3 linked regions of the Homo sapiens genome follow. The protein of the gene in region 2 interacts with the protein of the main gene of each other region in a biochemical or structural test. Each region holds a gene or a part of one and is shown on either strand. Other genes may lie near its edges. The genes, in order: FLT1, PGF and NRP1.

What was found.
Region 1: the proteins of PGF (region 2) and FLT1 are reported together in a solved structure, tested with the Homo sapiens proteins (2 studies listed by BioGRID and IntAct, with this or other methods).
Region 3: the proteins of PGF (region 2) and NRP1 form a complex in vitro, tested with the Homo sapiens proteins (one study listed by BioGRID).

The regions. Positions count from the first base shown.
Region 1 is NC_000013.11:28,299,023-28,303,350, forward strand, and holds the end of FLT1 (vascular endothelial growth factor receptor 1 isoform 1 precursor), read right to left. Parts: coding exon 4,145-4,328; 3' UTR 1,324-4,144; downstream 1-1,323. UniProt on the Homo sapiens protein: Tyrosine-protein kinase that acts as a cell-surface receptor for VEGFA, VEGFB and PGF, and plays an essential role in the development of embryonic vasculature, the regulation of angiogenesis, cell survival, cell migration, macrophage function, chemotaxis, and cancer cell invasion.
Region 2 is NC_000014.9:74,952,150-74,960,671, reverse strand, and holds the start of PGF (placenta growth factor isoform 1 precursor), read left to right. Parts: upstream 1-5,074; 5' UTR 5,075-5,429; coding exon 5,430-5,504; intron 5,505-6,725; coding exon 6,726-6,768; intron 6,769-8,522. UniProt on the Homo sapiens protein: Growth factor active in angiogenesis and endothelial cell growth, stimulating their proliferation and migration. It binds to the receptor FLT1/VEGFR-1. Isoform PlGF-2 binds NRP1/neuropilin-1 and NRP2/neuropilin-2 in a heparin-dependent manner.
Region 3 is NC_000010.11:33,176,954-33,184,998, reverse strand, and holds the end of NRP1 (neuropilin-1 isoform a precursor), read left to right. Parts: intron 1-2,250; coding exon 2,251-2,301; intron 2,302-4,633; coding exon 4,634-4,923; 3' UTR 4,924-7,506; downstream 7,507-8,045. UniProt on the Homo sapiens protein: Cell-surface receptor involved in the development of the cardiovascular system, in angiogenesis, in the formation of certain neuronal circuits and in organogenesis outside the nervous system. Mediates the chemorepulsant activity of semaphorins.

The sequences.
Region 1 (4,328 bases), on a different chromosome or scaffold from region 2:
TCCACCTTTTAAAATGGGTTTTCTCCTATGAAAAGTAGTGGTACTAAATGGCAGGGGTTTTTTTCTTCTTTTAGTAATATTGCATTGAAGAATTGTGTACATACATTCATATATATACACACACATTCACAAGTAAGTGTGCAGCTCAGTGACTCATCATAAGGTGAGCATACCTATGCACTACCACCCGGATCAGGAAATAGAACATTAGTAGCATCTGGTTGGATTTTGGGTTTTTTTTTTCCCCCTCCCTCAAGTGTTCTTAGCTCGCAGAATAGAAGAATGGCCATCCCTGTGTTGGGATCAAGGATTTTTTTTTTTAATTTCCTGGCCTGTGAAACCCAAAAGTCTGGTAATATGTTTAACACTGAGGAGTCCAATAAACCTTACTAGGCCATACTTCTGCTGGAGGAAAGAATAAAAATTAATTCCCAAATGTACTATAAGTTTCCAGAGCCATGAGAACATTTCTAAACTGACGTGACATTGATTCCTCAAGCATTCTTCAAGTCATTTGCCTGAATGAATGATTTTATTCTTATGTTATGAAACCCATAATACTTTTTAAAGGATTTCAGATTCTTGAAGACAAAATGCCTCTTGCCCTCTTGAGTTAACTAAAAGTGTACTGAGATTTGTCATTTATCCATTTTTATTGTCTTTGTCCCAAAGAAAGTAGGCCTATTTTTTCCCCTTAAAATATCTTTCCAATCTAGTTTCCTTATGATGATATTAGGCGGGTAATACTATGACCAATTTCTAAGACAAAGTGTTGGTCACTTATTCAATTTCTAGTACTTAGTGACCTGAGTTGTTTTCCTAGGACATAATCCACAAAACAAGATTGAAGAATACAGAGCTGGCATGTGTACTTTTACATTCTTGGGTTTCAAGCTTTTGCCTATTATTTTGTGTGGTTTTCTGCAGCATGTGTACACACCCTCTGTGATTATGCTAATTATTTATCAGCTGAAAATTAGTGTTTGGGGACAACTGCCTCTTTTTAATTGAGGGCACTTTTCTCTGCGGCTGGCACTCACACCCAGCATATGCTTTACTTGTTTCATGATCCTGTTGATGTTAGGGTTTAGTTTTCTGGGCAATCTGCCTAGTTTGATTTTGTTTTTTACTTACTGGTTGCAGTGTTCTGATTGTTTAGCACAGCCATTTTCTAGGACCGATAGAAACCTCTTTGCCCTCTCTTCAGCAGCATTTGCTTTATCTTTCTTGTGCTGTGTTTAATAAAGAGCACTAGTCCTCCACCCCCAGGGACACCTGTGACCTCTTTTTTACACTTAACAAGCAAATCAGGGAGAAAATATATGTGTTTTTGGAAGTTTATTATATGAAGATGGTATACAAAATACATTCATCATGACTAGAAATATAGGACCAAACCATGTCTGTCTTATATCTGTAGCATATATTCTTGGTTTGTATAAAAGTAACTTTAAAATTCCAGTTTCCTTAAATAGTTATGCACAAAACACACATACACCCACACACACACACACACACACACACACACACACACATACAGTTACACCACTGTCGGCCAAAGATGCACTCCTCCTTTAATCAATTTAAATGAGGCTAGCGAGTATCTGTTTGATGTTTGCATTCTTGTGGGCTAGGAAACAAGGCACGGGTCCCTAAAATTAACATCTCGGTGTCACTTCTTGGACTGACAAGACACAGACTTGCACATGGTTTCAGCCCCATTCCACCCAGACTGTTCCACGTACATTATCTCAGAAACTCTGAAAGGAAGTGCTCGTTCTTTGTTAGTGCCAACCATTTTTGTCATAAATGGCAAATGATTGGAATATTATCAGTTAATTCATGTTTCAATTTTCAGTGCTATTTTAATGAACAAGCACTTTGTAACTAGCTCATTATTACAAGTCTCCATTTTTCTTTCTACATTAAGACTCCAGATGGAACCATTCTTTGACTGATGGATGGACTCATGTATGCTACAAACCTGAGTTTGAAGGAGCTGAGTAACAATTCTAATGGTTTTGCTTTTCTCTTGAAAAGGAGTATTTATTATGGTCTCTTAATGATTAAGAATTAATTATTGAAATCAAGACATGAATAGCTAAGGTTTTATTTGTTATCACTATTTGCTGGGCTATTATCTGATTTGGAAAAAAAAAAAAAAGTAGAGAATTGACTGAGGTCTTCTTTTTTCTGTGTTTAACCTCCTTCCAGTTACCTGATTTATAAAATTGCCAGCTGTCACAGGTGGTTTGCGTATGTAAAGAAGAGGAAGAACAAAGATTTGTCCTCTCTTCTGGCTCTAGCCTGCTTTTGTTTGGATTTAGATCTTGGTGGAGAGGACTGTCCCACTCCTCTCTTCTGGCTAGTGAGTCTTCCACAAAAGCCGCTGCCAGGAGCCAGTAGGCTCACTAGGGAATGTGCTGATGACGGTCCCATCTCTTCATACAGAGAGCCTTTAAACAAGGATGTGGCACATAAGAACAGAGGCATACATTCTTCGGTTACTTAGAGCTCAGGTTCTACAGTTAAATTACATGGATAAAAGGAAGCATACTCTTCTCCCCAAGAAGCAGCAATCCACTGTTGCCTCTCCAGCTTCTGACTGGCTGCAGAAGGTGCAGACATCATAAATACATAGACCCTAACTTGCATAAATAGCATCAAACAGAGCCAGCTTAGCGATCCAAGGCCCACTTGATCTTTAGACCCTGAAGAGTAGGCGCCCTTTCCTACCCTGTCTCCCTATTCCCATCATGCTCAGACCCCAGGCAAGTTTCAAAGCAGTTGAAAATGGGCTTTTCTTCTAGTGATGGCTCATTAACTAATATCCTGAGTCCCAACTGGAGAAATACCTTGCATAAATTACATACCACCTTTTTACTCAAGGAGCTTAAAGTGCTTAATATGCGCCAGCTAATGCTCTTCCACATCCTTTCAGATTAGTGTGAGATAGTGGAATCCCCATTAAATGAAAAGGAAACGTGACTGACTTCCTGTGTTTTGGGTCCCAACTGTGTTGGTGAATTGGTTTGGTTGGTATAGAGACGGGGTTTTCCCTTGACCTTATTGACCTTTTTCCTCCATCAGCCCTCGTTTTGATATGGAGAAAACTCCTCTCCTCAGGACTGCATTTTCATTCTTCTCAGCTTTCTTTCACAACTAACTGTGCAAAACAGAATAATACCAAGAAATTGAGTTAAGTGTCTGGACTATATATTAATACCCAAAATAGAATGTGACATTTTCAGTGTAAGGCCATCATGGCCTGGAGACAACCTAACTCTGGCTAAGTTTTCAGTGCATCTTACTAGAGGAGCCAAAAGTATGGGCTCAGAGTTGAGTGCCACCCTCAGTGCTACAAATCAAAACATGCCACGAATGAGAATGGACATAGAACCACTTCCATAGGTAAAGTTCTAAAATTTGCTTTAGTTCCAAAAAAGATATTTGTCCTTTTCTTGCCTCCCAGAATCCAGAAAATGTCCCCTCATCGCTGTCCATCTGCTCCTGGCTGGGCCCTCAAATGTAGAAGGGTCAGAGCTGGGAAGCCACTGAAATGGCATTGCTGAGCCCCGTCCCCCTCCGTGCCCACATGGTGCGTCTCAAATTCTTTCTCATGCCTTCTCCCGGTTTCTCTTTTCTCCCTTGCTTTTTGCTTTTTTTCCTTTTCCTCCTCACATGTCTTAGGCCTGCTAGAGGACTCCCGAGATGTTGCTCAGGCCAGCCAGTGATCCCTGGGGCTAACGGGCTTGTTGCCCTGGGTTTTGGGCTGCAGGGCTGGCCCAGTGGGGTACGTGATGCATTGGGTGATCAGTGCAGCTCCTCAATCAAACTGGTCCTGCGTGCCCTGAGGTGGCGGGGGTTGGAGCAGGGAAGTCATTGGGTTTAGGAAGGATTTCTCTAACACTGAGTAACATGAGGATTTAGCAGTAGTGTTCTTCACTTGTCACTATTTCTCTATCTGGAGTTACATTCTTGTTAGTCAAAAAAAAAAAAGCACTATTAAAAAAATCACAAAAAGCAGCTGGCTCCCATGGAAAGATAAAGGTGTAAACTTATATATGCATAATACTGGCAAAAGCTAGTTTCCTGGGGGTATAAATACACATGTGCTTCTAGAAATAAGGCTTCGTGTCAAACTCTAGATGGGTGGGGTGGAGTACAGGACCACCGAGTTGTAGTCTGGGGGCGGGGAGCAGCACGCGATTTTCCTTTCCAGCTCAGCGTGGTCGTAGGTGAACCTGCGCTTGCCTTCGCTGACGTGCCCACAGCTGGAATGGCAGAAACTGGGCCTGCTGACATCAGACAGCCCCGACTCCTTACTT
Region 2 (8,522 bases):
CCATCAGAGGGGCCCACCCAAGTTGAAAGTTCTTGAGTATGGGGTCTAGGAGGGGGCACCTCTGAACAGCTGAAGGGCACGTGAGTAAGGGAGGGCCAGACTTGGGACATTTTCCCCATGCGGAAGGTCTAGTCTCTGAGGATTGATCCAACTCAAAACATATCAATTAAGGCCTACTATGTCCCAGACACTGAGCAAGGTGTGGAGGCTACAAGGGTAAACAAGAGACACAGTACCTGCCCTCTTAGATCTTACCATCTTTTAGGCAAGACAGATAAGCAACTGGGCAATTGTGATACTGAAGGCCAGGTGCCATGATGGAGGGGAATTCAAGGTACTGTGGGAACCTGTACCAGGGATGTCTTACCCAGTGCTGGTTGCCAGGGAAGCCATGGAATCCTGCCTAGAACAAGTGCATAAAGAGAAGAAGAGCTCAGGATGGAGGCTGGGGTGGGTCCACAGGAAATCGCAGCCCAGGAGGCAGGGCAAGAAGGCAGAGGCCAACCAAGCATCTGCTTGCTAGCAGCTTTGAGTAGCTGCTGGCTATAATGCAGGTTCAGTCTATAAAGTGAAAAGGCCCTTGGCCCAGAGCTGCCCACTGTTTCCCTTTCTACCAGTCATGAAGGGGAAGATAATCCTTGGATGCTACACTTCTCAGCCACCCAAGTCCGGGACTCAGGAACAAGGTCAGAAGCAGAGGGTGTTTACCCAGGACCACTTGAGACACCTCTCCAGAGGCAGGTGCTGAATTGTCGTTAAGAGAGGACAAGTCATCACTGGGGAAAAGTTCATAGGGCCAAGACAACAAAGAGGCTAGAAAATGGGAAAATGGCTAGAAAATGGGGAAGTGAGTCAGGAAGCTGAAAGCCTACAAGCTGGGATGGGTTGGGGCAGGTGTTTCAGGCTAACACGATGACTAATAATATGGGAAACTGTGTTTGCAGGATGCCTTGGGGGCCAGGGGCTGGCCTGCAGACTGGAAGCCATGACTGCTCAGGGTCCACTGCATTGTCATGGCCCAGTGTTTCCACACCCAACCCCTCATGTTTATCTGTATCTGCCCGACTCCCCGCATAAGAGTCAGCTCCTGAAATCAGGGCTCCTTCCTTCCACACATCAACCATCCCAAGTCTGTCAAGCATCCATTCTGCTCCAGCATGGGGAAGACCCAGAAACGGCTCAAGACATCAGCCCTCACCTTCAACGTCCTTGCAGTAAGGTTGGGAGCTAGCGCTTAGGTTCACTGGAAAGACCTTTGGAGAAAGATCTCGGCTTGATCCCCATCACTGTTCCTTTTTAAGTAGCTAAACGACTATTGGAAAATTACATAAACTCCCTGGGCCTCCATCTTTCCATCTTCAAAATGGAAATAATTAAAACCTACCACTACAATGTGATCAGAATTCAATGAGTCAAGGTGGTTAGAGCACCAAGCACACTGTTTGGCATATAATAGATGTTCAATAAATATTACTTCTCTCCCTGAAACAACAGCAAGAGATTGTGGTGATAAACAGTTAAGTGTTGAGTTGTGGGCACTGACTGCCACCCCCTAAGCACCTGGGTCTACTTCAAGGGCCTCAGTGACAGTTGAGGATTGAGAGCCTGCACTGTGATGGTGAGAATTAGTGTTTGTGTGCACCTATGCAAATCGCTCCATTTTCTTTCTCCACTGCCACAGGCAGAAGCATAAGATTCTTTATTTTCTATCTCATGTCCATGCTACAGGACTCTGCTCTGTAACTGTAGTTTGTTTTTTGTTTGTTTGTTTTGGTTTGTTTTTTTGAGATGGAGTTCTACTCTGTCGTCCAGACTGGAGTGCAGTGGCACGATCTCGGCTCACTGAAACCTCTGCCTCCTGAGTTCAAGTGATTCTCCTGCCTCAGCCTCCCGAGTAGCTAGGATTACAGGTGCCTCCCACCACGCCCAGTTAATTTTTGTATTTTAAGTAGAGACGGGGTTTTACCATGTTTGCCAGGCGGGTCTCGAACTCCTAATCTCAGGTGATCTGTCCTTCTTGGCCTCCCAAAGTGTTGGGATTACAGGCGTGAGCCACTGCACCTGGTCTAACTGTAGTATTTTTATTTCTCTAATACAAGTCAAAAATTAAATTAGAAATCGTGATCAATTGCTACCATTCTTTGCACCAAAGGTGCTTTCTCAGTCCTCGCACAACCCTATGAGGTAAGTACTGTTATCATTCCCACTCCTACAGATGGAGGAAGCTGGGGCTCTGAAAGCAAAGGAAGCTGCTTGAGGCGATGTGGCTGGTCAATAGTGGGGCCAGTGTACAAAGGAGCACAGCCTGGGCAAGATGGCAAGACCCTGTCTTTACCCCCAAAAAAAAAAAGTTTTTAAATTAACTGGGCATGGTAGCACACACCTGTAGACCCAGTTATTCTGGAGGCTGAGGCGGGAGGATCCCTTGAGCCCAGGAATTGGAGGCTGCAGTGAGCTATAGCCAGTGCTACACCAGTGCACTGTAGCCTGGGAGAGAGAGCAAGACCTCGTTTCTAAAAATTAAAATTAAAATTACAAAAATTTAAAAAAAAAACAAGGGAGCAGAATTACTAGCACAGCTGCTCTGGACTGGATGTGAGCAAGAACAAACTTTGATTCAATCCATGGAAATGTTAGAGTCTCCTTGGTCTCTGCCGCTGAGCCTACCCTAGGCTAATTCATCTCACAGCCCAGGAAGCTGGGTTTAGAAGGGTATGGTCCCCAATTTAGTGATGAAGGACTGAGGTGCACTTGTGGGAACCACAGACTTCGCCCAAGGTGTTGAGTTCACTCAGGAAAGAGAACTTCGGCATCCCCAGCCATCGGTATCCCCCTACTCCATGAATGTAAACTCAGAGAGACCCTCCATATCATATCCCTAGCACCTAGAGCAGTTCCTGGAGCATAGCAGGGCTCAGGCAATACATGCCAAATGAAAAAACAAATTAATGAATACAGGCTGGGCGCGGTGGCTCACACCTGTAATCCCAGCACTTTGGGAGACTGAGGTGGGTGGATCACTTGAGACCAGGAGTTCTCGACCAGTCTGGCCAACATGACAAAAACCTGTCTCTACTAAAAATACAAAAATTAGCCAGGCATGGTGGTGTACACCTGCAATCCCAGCTACTTGGGAGGCTGAGGCACAAGAATCGCTTGAACCCATGAGGCAGATGTTGCAGTGAGCCGAGATTGCGCCACTGTCTACCAGCCTAGGCGACAGAGCAAGACTCTGTCTCAGAAAAAAAAAAAAAAAATACAAACTCATACACAATAGACACATCCCATGCATAAGTGCTAGAAACACTCAGTTATAGACAAGCATATACAATGAAGATACTTAAGCACACGCGCACACACTTGTGCACAATACACACCTGTGCCCACATACACAAATCCATACCCAAACTAAAGACACACACAAACACGTGTATGTATACAAAGATGTTATGGGCAACATATACAATACATATATGCACAAACACACACCTACTCACCCTCACACACATGCACAGTGACCCTCCACAATGATTCTGGGCCCAGGAAGCAGTTTGTCTACCCCACGAACCCCAGCTTGTTTGAAGCTCGTCAGGATGTTCCTTGCAGACCCCGCTTAGCCAGCTGGTGACTGGCCCCCGCCTCCTGAACCTCCAGGCTTAGGGCCGGCCAGGCAGGCAGGCTGCATCTCTGGCAGCCCCTCGTGGGTGGGCAGGCAGGCAGGCAGTGGACGCAGAGGTCACTGGGGTGAGAGCTGGGGCTGCCCTGGCCTCCCTGCTCTTGGCTGGAATGTGAGCTGTAGGGGCCACTTCCCAGGCCTCGCTCCTCCCCCACAGCCACCCACCAGCCCCAGGCCCAGCCAACTCGTGACTCCCAGTCCTGCCAGGTTCCTGCAGCCTGGGAGCTGGACACAGAAGGCAGTGAGAGGAGTGGTGGTAAAGAAAGATCCAGAACCAAGGGAGGGCACACACAAACGCAGAGAGAGAGGCACAGTCTTCACCCACAGAGACAGACACACACACGCAGAGACAGGCAGGCGTGCAGACTCACAGTCCCACCGAAAGATACACATTCAGACACTTCCAAACACACCCAGATACACAGCGGACACGAACAGATCACACAAGCATACAGAGATACAGAGAGACCTGACCCCCACACAGAGGCGTATTTGGAGGTACAGTAGTCACACGTACTCAGACCACACAGAGGCTCAGATGCACCGCTCATGGATATTCACAGACCCGCAAATGCCCATGCACACGCGCAGATGCACACAGACCCCCGCGCAGCGTACAGTTCCTCCTCGGCCAGGGACCAGGAGGAGATGCCTGAGTGAGACCACTCTCTACCACAGGGGGCTGCCCCGCAGGGAGGGCCTGGGAAGACTGCTTCCCAAGGAGGCAACAGGCCTGATCCTCCAGCCAGGTGCCCTGAGAGGTTTCCTGTGGGAGGCCCACTGTGTCCGTGCCTGGCTAGGAGGGTGGTAGGTCGGGTTAGAGTTCTGGAGTCACGTAGGCTTGGGTTTTGTCTCTGCCAGTTCCTCGGACACACAGATGCGCGCACACACACAACACACACACACTTTCCAAGAATGCCTATGTCCATTCGACATATGCAGGCAGGGGTGCTCTCGGAGCCTCGGTTTCTTCATCTATATAACCTGGCTAGGAATCCCTTGGCCCCCTAGGGGTGTGGGCATGGCTGCCTTCCCAGGCATCCCGGACGGCCCTTCCTGCAGAGGCGGTTAGATCATGAGCCTTGACGGCTGACGCTGGACTCCTGGATGCCCCCATCCCAGGTGACCGCCCTGAGAGCCGAAGCAGGGCTGTGGGCCCTGTGGGCGGGCGCGGCGCGGCCCGGGGAGCTGCGGGCTGGGCTCGGCGAGGCGTCTGGACCTGCCGAGAGCCCCTCGCACGCACTGCGGGCTCCGGCGCTGCGGGCTGGCCGGGCGCTGCGGGCTGACCGGGCGCTCCGGGAACTCGGCTCGGGAACCTCGTCTGCGGTGGGCGGGGCCGGCCCGGAGCCCCGCCCCGGCTCAGTCCCTGAAACCCAGGCGCGGACCGGCTGCAGTCTCAGAAGGGAGCTGCTGTCTGCGGAGGAAACTGCATCGACGGACGGCCGCCCAGCTACGGGAGGACCTGGAGTGGCACTGGGCGCCCGACGGACCATCCCCGGGACCCGCCTGCCCCTCGGCGCCCCGCCCCGCCGGGCCGCTCCCCGTCGGGTTCCCCAGCCACAGCCTTACCTACGGGCTCCTGACTCCGCAAGGCTTCCAGAAGATGCTCGAACCACCGGCCGGGGCCTCGGGGCAGCAGTGAGGGAGGCGTCCAGCCCCCCACTCAGCTCTTCTCCTCCTGTGCCAGGGGCTCCCCGGGGGATGAGCATGGTGGTTTTCCCTCGGAGCCCCCTGGCTCGGGACGTCTGAGAAGATGCCGGTCATGAGGCTGTTCCCTTGCTTCCTGCAGCTCCTGGCCGGGCTGGCGCTGCCTGCTGTGCCCCCCCAGGTAAGAGCTACCCCCACCTAGCCTGGCTCCCCAGACCTCCCCATCCCAGCACTGGAAGCATGGGACTCTGAAATCACAGACCCACTCCAGGGAGCAGCAACTCCAAGGATGTCCACACACTTCCTAAAGGCCAGGCTGGACTTCTTTCGTTTGGGAAGAGACCTCAGGCTGGCTGTCCCCCAGGTCCTGGGGGCTGTCTTGGTGGGGGCAGGGAAGCCACAGGGAGGGAGGGAGGGAGGGAGGTTTCCTGTCTGGCCCCTGGAGCCCTGGTGGCTTTGCTAAAAGCATCTGTCCACTAATCCCAGGCGGGTCCCTGGCCTTGTGGTCAGGGTCGAGGCCCCATGGCCAACCAGGCGTCCCCAGGACCTCTGACCTGGCCTGGTGGGGGTGGCGGAGGAGCCAGCTGAAGAAGCTGTTGGTGGGGAGGCTGGCCCTGCCCCCACCAGGGCTCAGGACTGAGCCGTGGGCTCCTGGGTGGGCTGGGGACGAGACAAGGGGTCTCGCTGTGCCTTTTCTCCTGGGTGGGTGGCCGGAGGTCCTGAGTGCAGGGCCTGGGGAAGTGAGCAGGGCCCTTTTCCCAGGAGCCGGGTGAGTCTGGCTGGGAGCCAGCTTGGGCAGTGAAATCCTGACAAAGCCAATGAACTGCCTTCCCACTGCGTTGTCCCACTGCCCTGGGAGTCCCCAGCCCCAGCCCAAGAGTAGGAGTGGGCTGGGCAGTCCCTGAGGAGTCCGAGCAGCCCAGCCACCCGCCTGCCTGCTGCAGGGCTGGCCAGAGGTGTAACGTTACCGGCTGCACCAGCTCATGGCGCCACCCGCTCCAGCCCCTCAGCTCCCACCAGCTGATCACCTCCCCCTGGGCTCTGGCACCCAGCCAAGGCGGGCTGTGCAGGGCCCAGCAGGGTTGGCCTGGGGGCTGGGTAGAAGGCAGACCCGCAGGATTGGAAGATCTTTGGGATGCAGCAGGCCAAGGGTCTCCAAAAGCTTCTAGCCTCCCATCCTTTTCCAAATGAGGAAAACTGAGGCCAGAGAGGGGTGGGACCTAACCTACCCAGGGTCCAGTGAGTTTTTAGTGGTACTCAGGCTGCTCTGAGACAGGGCAGAGCATGTGCAGCAAGTGGGAAGGAACCCAGAGGGGCCCCTACCTTCTTGCCATCACACTTGGCCCAAGAGTGCAGAGCTCCAAGGTACCCCCAGCTCACCTCTGCACTTTTCTGTCCATAGCAGTGGGCCTTGTCTGCTGGGAACGGCTCGTCAGAGGTGGAAGGTAAGCTGGCCAGGCTGGGGGTACGCATGCTCCCCAAGCCCCTCTCTTCCTTTCTCCCAAGCCCAGGTGTGGCATGAAGCGTGGGTGCAGGTTGATAAAAGCTGGGGAGAGCCTACAAGCTAGACATGCTGGGTGATGACTTTGGCAGGGCCTAAGAGATCCCCTCATGGTGACCCAGAGACTAGAGAGGTGTGGGCTGGAGTCACCAGCACACGGAGAGTGGGGCTGGGGCCAGTATAGCCAGGGTTCATCCAGCTGGCTCAGAGCCCTTCCCCAGCATGATTTAAGGGTATGGATGGGGTCTTGGAGGACAGGGTGGGGAGTGAGTGCCAGGGGCCAGAATGGGGGTCTGGGAGCTGAATGCAGTGGGCAGTCAAGAGGATCAGGAATGGGTGAGGGGCCCTCCCCAGCAGCCCAGCCCTGGTGGAACTGCCGGGATCTGACCATGCGTTTCCATTGATTATAAACAGACAGAACATAGTCGCGCCCTCCCTGGCCCCTCCACTCCCCGCCCTGGTTGCATCAAGAGGGAGTCTTCAAAGGGCAACGAGACGTTTGCCAAAGAGACATATGTACAGAAGGCAGGAGGCCCATGCCAGGCCCCCTACCTCGCTCCTCCCTCCCTGCCTCTCCAAGACGTGCAAAGTGGCCACACACCACCGCTGAGGTTTCCCCTGCGCCATGGGAGAGTGGGCATGTAGGGACATGCACACGCACACGCGTGATAGCCATCTGCGTGCTGGGAACACCCTCTGCTGGGCTGCCTGCCTGGCAGCCCGCCTCTCCCGGGCCTGGCCATACTCTGACACCTAAGGCTTAGGCCCCTAGACCCCTGAGCAGGTAGAGGAGGTAGCTGCCCTTGACCTCATGGATGCCTCCCTTGCTGTGCCTCTGGAACCAGCACAACATTATGCTCCTTGGGATTTGGGGAAGGACCCATCCCCTACCTCCACACTATGCCCTTTTTGGTGCTTTTAGTGTAGGTCAGGCCACAGCTACCAAAGATGCCTTAGCCTCAGTTTTCTCATCTGTAAAATGGGAGCCTTGGCTACATGATGTCTATGGTTTCTTCTTTTTCCGAGATTGAAAAAGGGACTTGTCCTCTGACTCCAGGGAGGAGAAATGGGTGTACATATCACCCAGGATTTGAGGTGGGGAGGCCTGGAAGTGTAGATTCATTAGGTCAGCTCTCCTGTCACACTTATCAATCAGGGAGTCTGCAATCTGACCGGGAGAAGTACAACGAGCTTTGCACCCCAGCTCTCAAAATCTGAAAATGGCATCCCCACCTGTTAACACCACAGCCAGAGACAGCATGGCCAGCCATGGGCATTGATTTTTACTATTACTATTCACGGTAACAATGTTAGGCATTTTCTGTCATTCTGTTTTGACCACAGGCTGTGAAGTAGGAAGGGGTTGTACTCCATTTTTACAGATGCAGGCAGGCCCTGAGGCTCAGAGAGGCCCTGGGGGTCGCCCCAAGCCTCAGACACTCCTCATGGATCTGGCAGAACCAAGTGCTCCCAATAGCTCCGTGGCTGAGCGGGCATGAGCAGGGTGTCCCTTGTGGCAGGCTGTCTGTGTGCCCTGCCAGTGACCATGGAGAGGACACTTGTGGGCTTGGGCTGGTGGCCAGTGGCTCTGCCCAGCCCTGTGGCCCGTCTCCAGTGCCCTCCACAGAAACTTGCTCTCAGGATTAAGCATTTCTCTCCTGGGGTCTCCCCCATCCCAGGTGGTAGGTAGGCAGGTGG
Region 3 (8,045 bases), on a different chromosome or scaffold from region 2:
ACAAATAGCATTACTAATGGCAGTGTAATAGCACAGTAATTAGTCTTCAGCTCCATTTGCTACATTGAAACTTTTGTTATACATCATTATATAATAGGATGTTAATTATAACAAAATGGGATAAGCCTATTGGGCCAATTTAAGACAAAGGAGGTCTGTTGGCTGTAATGGGGGTTTTGGTCACTTCAGCAACTTACAAAGCTTTTATTATATAATATATTGAATATATATAATCCCTAAAGCGGCAATAATTTGATAGGATCCATCGAAGAAATTGGGCAAAAAGAAAGGAGCAATGAATAAAGGCTTGCTTCTTCATACTATTAAAGGGAATCTGCTTAGTGCTGCACTATTTAGCAAATCTTCACAAGAATGATAAGGCTTAATAGTTTAGTTGCAACTCCTTTACAAATTACCCACATCCATATCTACACTGCTGTAAAAATGTGTATTTCATGTAGTAACACAGTGTCTGTGATTTCTTCACTTCTCCATTCCAAAGTGAGAGTGATGATGGTGATGTTTTGGGATGTGAGAACAAACTCCACAGACTAAAACAAAGAAACGAAATTAAATTCAGTTCAACAAGTTCTAACGAAATTCAATTCGGTTCAACAAGTTCTAACTGACTACATACCATATGCAAAGCAGCATGCGGATGCTCCAGTGAAAGTACATGGCTGAGCCGGGTGCAGTGGCTCACGTCTGTCATCCCAGCACTTTGGGAGGCCGAGGCAGGAGGATCATTTGAGATCAGGAGTTTAGGACCAGCCTGGCCAACATGGCAAAACCCCATCTCTACTAAAAAATACAAAAATTAGCTGGGCGTGGTGGCACGCAGCTGTAGTAATCCCAGCTACTCGGAAGGCTGAGGCAGGAGAATTGCTTGAACCCAGGAGGCGGAAGTTGCAGTGAGCCAAGGTCATACCATTGCACTCCAGCCTAGGCCACAGAGCAAGACCCCATTTCAAAAAAAAGAAAAAAGAAGGAAGGAAGGAAGGGAGAAAAGAAAAGAAAGCACATAGTTGAGACAATTCTATGGGACTTTTTCTTTTCTTGTGATTTGTCCATTTAGCTGTAGTTGCTGCCAGACATTGTAGTGGGAAATTCACAACTACGGCTCCATTAAACCACTTTGTTTATTTGTTTATGCTGCTACCAATAAAAATATGTGTAAGACAATTGTACAATGATTCATCAAATATGCATCCTTGAACATCTGGGTGTGGATGCTATGAGATTATCAACTATTTATTAATCTTTCATTCATTCATACATAGAACAAATATCTATTAAAGCACCTATGATGTGCTAGACACTGTTGTAAATGCTGGAATACAGCAGTGGACAAAGCACTCAAAAATTCCTGCTCTGTACTTAGTACCACAGGAATACTGGAACTCTACTTCTTCAATAGCTATTTTATGTATTTATCTATTTTTGTAATACACAGGGCACAGTCTCTTGCCTCAAAGAGTTGGCATACTATTCGAGAAGCCAAACTAACGCACACTAAATTTAGGAAGCAGTTATCTACAAACTATAGGATGGTCACCATATGTACGAATCTACTTCAGTAGAACCTATATTCACCAGATTTTTTTCCACATTTCAGATGCCAAAACCATGTCTCTTCCCCCTTCTCTTCTTTTTTTTTTTTTTTAAATTTGTTGTTGTTGTTTTTGCTTTTTTGAGACAGGCTCTTGCTTCCGTCACCCAGGGTGGAGTGCAGTGGCACCATCATGGCTCACTGTAAACTCCATCTCCTGGGCACAAGCTCTCCTTCCGCCTCAGCCTCCTAAGCAGCTGGAAAGCTAATTTTTTTATTTTTGTAGAGATGGGATCTCACTATGTTGCCCAGGCTGGTCCTAAACTCCTAGCCTAATGTGGTTCTCCTGCCTTGCCCTCTCAAAGTGCTGGAATTATAGGCACGAGCCAGCATACCCAGCCCACCCTTGTCTCCTAAAACAACAGATTCTGCTAGCAGCAGTGCTACCTGGATTTAGATATGGCACCTTAAAGGCAGTGTTGTGATGTCACATTACCAATTTCCCGGTCATTTAACATTGCCTCTTTATTGATCTGTTTGGTGATTTCTGATTGAACTAAAAAATCCAAAAGGAGCCCAGTAGACACGTGTGTGTGTGTGTGTGTGTGTGTGTGTGCATGTACCTAAAGGTTTGTGTAGTTTGGTGCATTATATTTTGATGGCAGTTCAAATATCTCTTTCAATTTTGTTTGACTTGTCAGAACCAGCAGACCTGGATAAAAAGAACCCAGAAATTAAAATTGATGAAACAGGTAAATTTGTCTTGCTGACCAATTTTTAAAAAATTTTACTATGGCTTTCATTGTGTTTATGAAGAAACTTTGTGGAACTCTAATACACTGGTATGTCAAAAAGTTCAAATAAAAAACATCTATGCCCATGGCCCTGGGTTGGTGCTGTGGATCGGATTGTGCTCACAGAGTACCCACTTCCGAGCTGCCCATAAGACTTGGGGAGCCTCGGTGACGGGTCCTGCTTGTACACCTGGTTGAGCCTGGGAAGTGTGCTCACCCTGGCCCTTCCCTGCCCAGTCTAGAGGTGGAACATAAAGGATAATCAGCTCAAACACACTCAGTTTATCACTACAAAGACAGAAAATTAGTGAAGACTATTTCCATACACAGTTATTTGAAACCAACCGAAATTCTTCTGTTTGTTGATATCCAGCTAGGATCTTTAAGAGACCAGAGCCCAATTTCTGAGATAATCCATTGTGTTTGATTCATCTTTTCCCATCTTCCTCTACTAGAACCTTGGTTTTGTGATGATGATGATGATGATAAGAAGGATTTATTGAAGAGTTAGTATGTTCTGAGCACTTTACTTACCTGATCTTTTTCTTTTCTTTTTTTCTTGAGACAGAGTCTGTCTCTGTCACCCAGGCTTGGAGTGCAGTGGCGTGATCTCAGCTCACTGCAGCCTCCACCTGCCAGGTTCAAGCGATTTTCCTGCCTCAACCTTCCGAGCAGACTACAGGCCCACACCACCACACTCAACTTATTTTTTTGTCTTTTGTAAGGTGGAGTTTCACCATGTTGCCCAGGCTGGTCTTGAATTCCTTAGCTTAAGCAATTCCCTGGCCTCAGCCTCCTAAAGTGCTGGGATTACAGGCGTGAGCCACTGCACCCGTCCTACATACCTTATCTTATTTAATCCTCACAGCAGCTCTAGGGGTTGTATTTGTCCCCATTTTACAGATAGTGAGACTGAAACTTAAGTAGCATAGCTAATTAGGTGGTAGCCTCACACTTTAGCCTGATGAACTATAAATGTGTGTTTTTGCTGAACGCTGCTTTGTGATCAAATGCAAGACCTTTGATCAGAGTTAGGCCTTGCCTGGTATTAGTCTATTCCCAGAAGTTTCCAGATCTCCCAGCCAGCATTGTGGGCTGTTGGACACTTGCTCCACCATCACTCACAGCTGCTGTGTGGATGGTGCTGCACCCTTATCATCAATGCATGTCAGCATCTGTTGCCCTTAGAAATGGGATCCTACTCTATGGCCAGCCGTGGACTTCATAGAGACAAATAAATATTGCACCTTGCTGTTAGTAATATGAACACATTACCAAGTCCACACAGAGATGTAAACTTTATTAGAGGTTGTTTCAAAACAATATTTCATCAAGGGAGAGAGTATTAATATGCCCCAAGGCTTGTTTTCTCTTGGTTAGGGATTTGCATCTCATATTTTTAGTTTTCTTTGATTGGAATCTTTGTTGATCAGAACACCATTAAGTAAACCCCAGGCATATTGTGCGTTAACATTTTCATCCCGTTTCTAGTACCAGGTAATTAGGCTCAAAGCTCCCATGTTAACAATTTCTCCTGTTCCACTCCAAAGAAAACAAGTCCCCAGTGACTGAGCTGCAGAGCAGTGCAACTGTCTCCAGTTAAACTACCAGGGCTGCAAAGATGCTGATTATTAGTAAATGTCTTCTATTTGGCATGACAGACATGGTTTCTCGATTTGAGCCACACTCTGTTTACATGTCAGCAGCAAGCATTCTCTTGTTCTAAAAAATCACTCCTTCTTTACTGAAACTACTGTAGACTTTGGGCAAAATTCGTTTCACTTGAAGATTTTCCATATGGGAGAACAAACACATGCATAAACCATGCCAGATCCTGGAAACAGCACCACGTAGAAGGGCAGCCATGAAGGTTTTTCTTGTGCCTGTTTTGGGGTTAGGTACATGCACTGGGAATGGTAAAATCCCCTTGCTAGACTAATGTGTGACTAAGCATTTTGCAAAACTTAATGATCACCTATCTAGCCAAGGACTGTAAACACAGATTACAATCTAGGACAGATGGGGCTGCATGAAATCTGAGTTAGATGAGCAAGGAACCTCCCAGTTGATCCAGAATGGGTTGTTTCCACGTGCTAAGCAGTCTGTCAGAAGCCCCAGCGCCCACTCCCCTCTACCACCTCCCACACTTCTGTTCCCAACAATGAGTCAGATATGACAGGCAAAACTGGGGTGTGTGATTTGCTCCTGTTTCGTTCCTTTCTATTTTTCTGTCTGCTTTCATCTGGTCTGTTGGCGGTGCTCACGGAGACAATATTGTTTTTTTCCATAGGGAGCACGCCAGGATACGAAGGTGAAGGAGAAGGTGACAAGAACATCTCCAGGAAGCCAGGCAATGTGTTGAAGACCTTAGACCCCATCCTCATCACCATCATAGCCATGAGTGCCCTGGGGGTCCTCCTGGGGGCTGTCTGTGGGGTCGTGCTGTACTGTGCCTGTTGGCATAATGGGATGTCAGAAAGAAACTTGTCTGCCCTGGAGAACTATAACTTTGAACTTGTGGATGGTGTGAAGTTGAAAAAAGACAAACTGAATACACAGAGTACTTATTCGGAGGCATGAAGGCAGACAGAGATGAAAAGACAGTCAAAGGACGGAAGTGGAAGGACGGGAGTGAGCTGGGGAGCTGTTGATCTTTCACTATACAGGCTGGGAAGTGTGTTGATGACCACTGAGCCAGGCTTTTCTCAGGAGCTTCAATGAGTATGGCCGACAGACATGGACAAGGAGCTGTGTTCACCATCGGACTCATGTGCAGTCAGCTTTTTTCCTGTTGGTTTCATTTGAATAATCAGATGCTGGTGTTGAGACCAAGTATGATTGACATAATCATTCATTTCGACCCCTCCTGCCCCTCTCTCTCTCTCTCCTCTCCCCTTTGTGGATTCTTTTTGGAAACTGAGCGAAATCCAAGATGCTGGCACCAAGCGTATTCCGTGTGGCCCTTTGGATGGACATGCTACCTGAAACCCAGTGCCCAGAATATACTAGAATCACCGCATTTCAGTGGACTCCTGAAGTTGTACTTGTGTATAATTGCCCGCGTCGTGCATAGGCAAAGAAGGATTAGGCTGTTTTCTTTTTAAAGTACTGTAGCCTCAGTACTGGTGTAGTGTGTCAGCTCTGTTTACGAAGCAATACTGTCCAGTTTTCTTGCTGTTTTTCCGGTGTTGTACTAAACCTCGTGCTTGTGAACTCCATACAGAAAACGGTGCCATCCCTGAACACGGCTGGCCACTGGGTATACTGCTGACAACCGCAACAACAAAAACACAAATCCTTGGCACTGGCTAGTCTATGTCCTCTCAAGTGCCTTTTTGTTTGTACTGGTTCATTGTGTTACATTAACGACCCACTCTGCTTCTTGCTGGTGAAAGCCCTGCTCTTTAATCAAACTCTGGTGGCCCACTGACTAAGAAGAAAGTTTATTTTCGTGTGAGATGCCAGCCCCTCCGGGCAGGCAAGGGCTCTGAAGATTTGGCAACGTGGCTTAATTGTTCTGCTTTTTCTGTAGTTCAATTTCATGTTTCTTGACCCTTTTGTATAAAGCTACAATATTCTCTCTTATTGTTCTTTCATATGGAATGTATTTTCAAATGTAAACTCTCTTCTCTTTCTCTCTCCTATCTCTCTGTCTTTTTTCTCTCTTAGAATTGGAGGATTTGCCATTGTCCAGGAAAGAAACTTGCAGCTTTAACCTGCTGGGAATGGCAAACGATTTTACTAGACTTTATGTTTAAAAATAAATAAATAAGGGAAATTCCTAACTTTGCCCTCCAAAGTCTAACTTTGGTTTTCTTGTTAACTGGTTAAAGTGACAGTATCTTTTTTCCTTATCTATTCTATTCAAAATGACCTTTGATAGAAATGTTGGCATTTAGTAGAAATAGTGATAAGTTGAGGAAAGAAATAATACAAATTGGCTTTCAAGTGAGACCCAAAGGAAGAACTGGATAAAATCTTCCAAATCCAAAAGCATGAGATTTTTCTATCCAAATATGCAAAAATGACCCAAGAGAACTTTCTTATTTTGCTACTGAGTCACACAAGGGAAGTGGAAGGAAGAACAGTTAATTTAAGAATGAAACTATAAATCCTGATGCCTGGGGGTCAAGTATTTTAAGATAAGAGGGGGAAAAACACATAAAGTCAAACAAATGTTTTAAAAATTCATAACAGCAACCTTGAAAAAATAGACTTAAATGAATGCTTCTAGAAACTTCCAGCGGCTCACAAAGAATAAGCCTGCCTTAGGGCTGGCAACATCTAAGCCTCTAACAGCACAGGGAAGCAAATATCTTACCAGGCAGCCTATGAATTAACCCAAAGAAGCTTTGGTTGGTTTTGGTGGATTTTTATCATGCCATGTTGGACATGAGATTTTTTAGATCTTCCTTCCCACATTGCTAGACGTCTCACTCAAAGACATTTGTTGGGAGTCACATTTGCATCATAGACGAGACAGTCCATTCATCTTAGTTAAATTGGATTGAGAATGCCTTTTGTTTCCAGGAAAATATTGATCACCATGAAAGAAGAATAGTTTTTTGTCCCCAGAGACATTCATTTAGTTGATATAATCCTACCAGAAGGAAAGCACTAAGAAACACTCGTTTGTTGTTTTTAAAGGCAACAGACTTAAAGTTGTCCTCAGCCAAGGAAAAATGATACTGCAACTTTAAAATTTAAAGTATCTTGCACTGATAAATATATTTAAAAATTATATGTTTATAAAGTTATTAATTTGTAAAGGCAGTGTTACAAAATGTTCAGTTTATATTGTTTTAGATTGTTTTGTAATTTTTAAAGGTGTAAAATAACATATTTTTTCTTTATGGAAATCTATAAAACTTTCTGTAGTAAAATGTTTTCATTTTACTGGTATATTATTGCTTCATGTTTTGTACCATCATAAGATTTTGTGCAGATTTTTTTTACAGAAATTATTATTTTCTATGACAATATGACACTTGTAAATTGTTGTTTCAAAATGAACAGCGAAGCCTTAACTTTAAATGACATTTGTATTCTCAGACACTGAGTAGCATAAAAACCACATAGAACTGAACTGTAACTTAAATTCCAAACTATGACTACTACATTCCAAAGAAACAGTTGAATTAAACATTTTCATAAAATATCCCACACCTGATGGCTTTTATTATATTAGCACTGTTCTAGTTAAAGAAGTTGGTGACATGCCACTATCCAATAACTTCCAAGATTTTTAAAAATTCTCTTTTTTAAAATATCCTGATAAGGAGAGAAGATTAAGAAGACATTTTCTGAAAGTAGAATCTCAACTCACATTGGACCCTGTCATGATAAGGAATACGGAATTTGACGTTAGGAATGGGAATGATCCTAAATTGTGTGTCAAATGTTCTATATTTCATTTGGTAAAGTTTCTTTTATCATATTCACTCATAACTTGGTAAGTTTTGTTCTTGCAGAAAATAGTAATGAACCTGACAGTATTTATTCATGCACCCACGCTGCATTTAGGTAATGGGAAAAGTTGGGTATGACATTACAACTGGCTGTTTGGTAATTCTTAGGAGAGTTTTATTCCATCTAGGACCAGAATAATAGGAAAAATAATAACAATAACAAAGACAACAGAAGTGTCAAGTCAAAGGGGCCCTTTTTACAACAAAACTGGCCTAGCTTAATTTCTATTACTC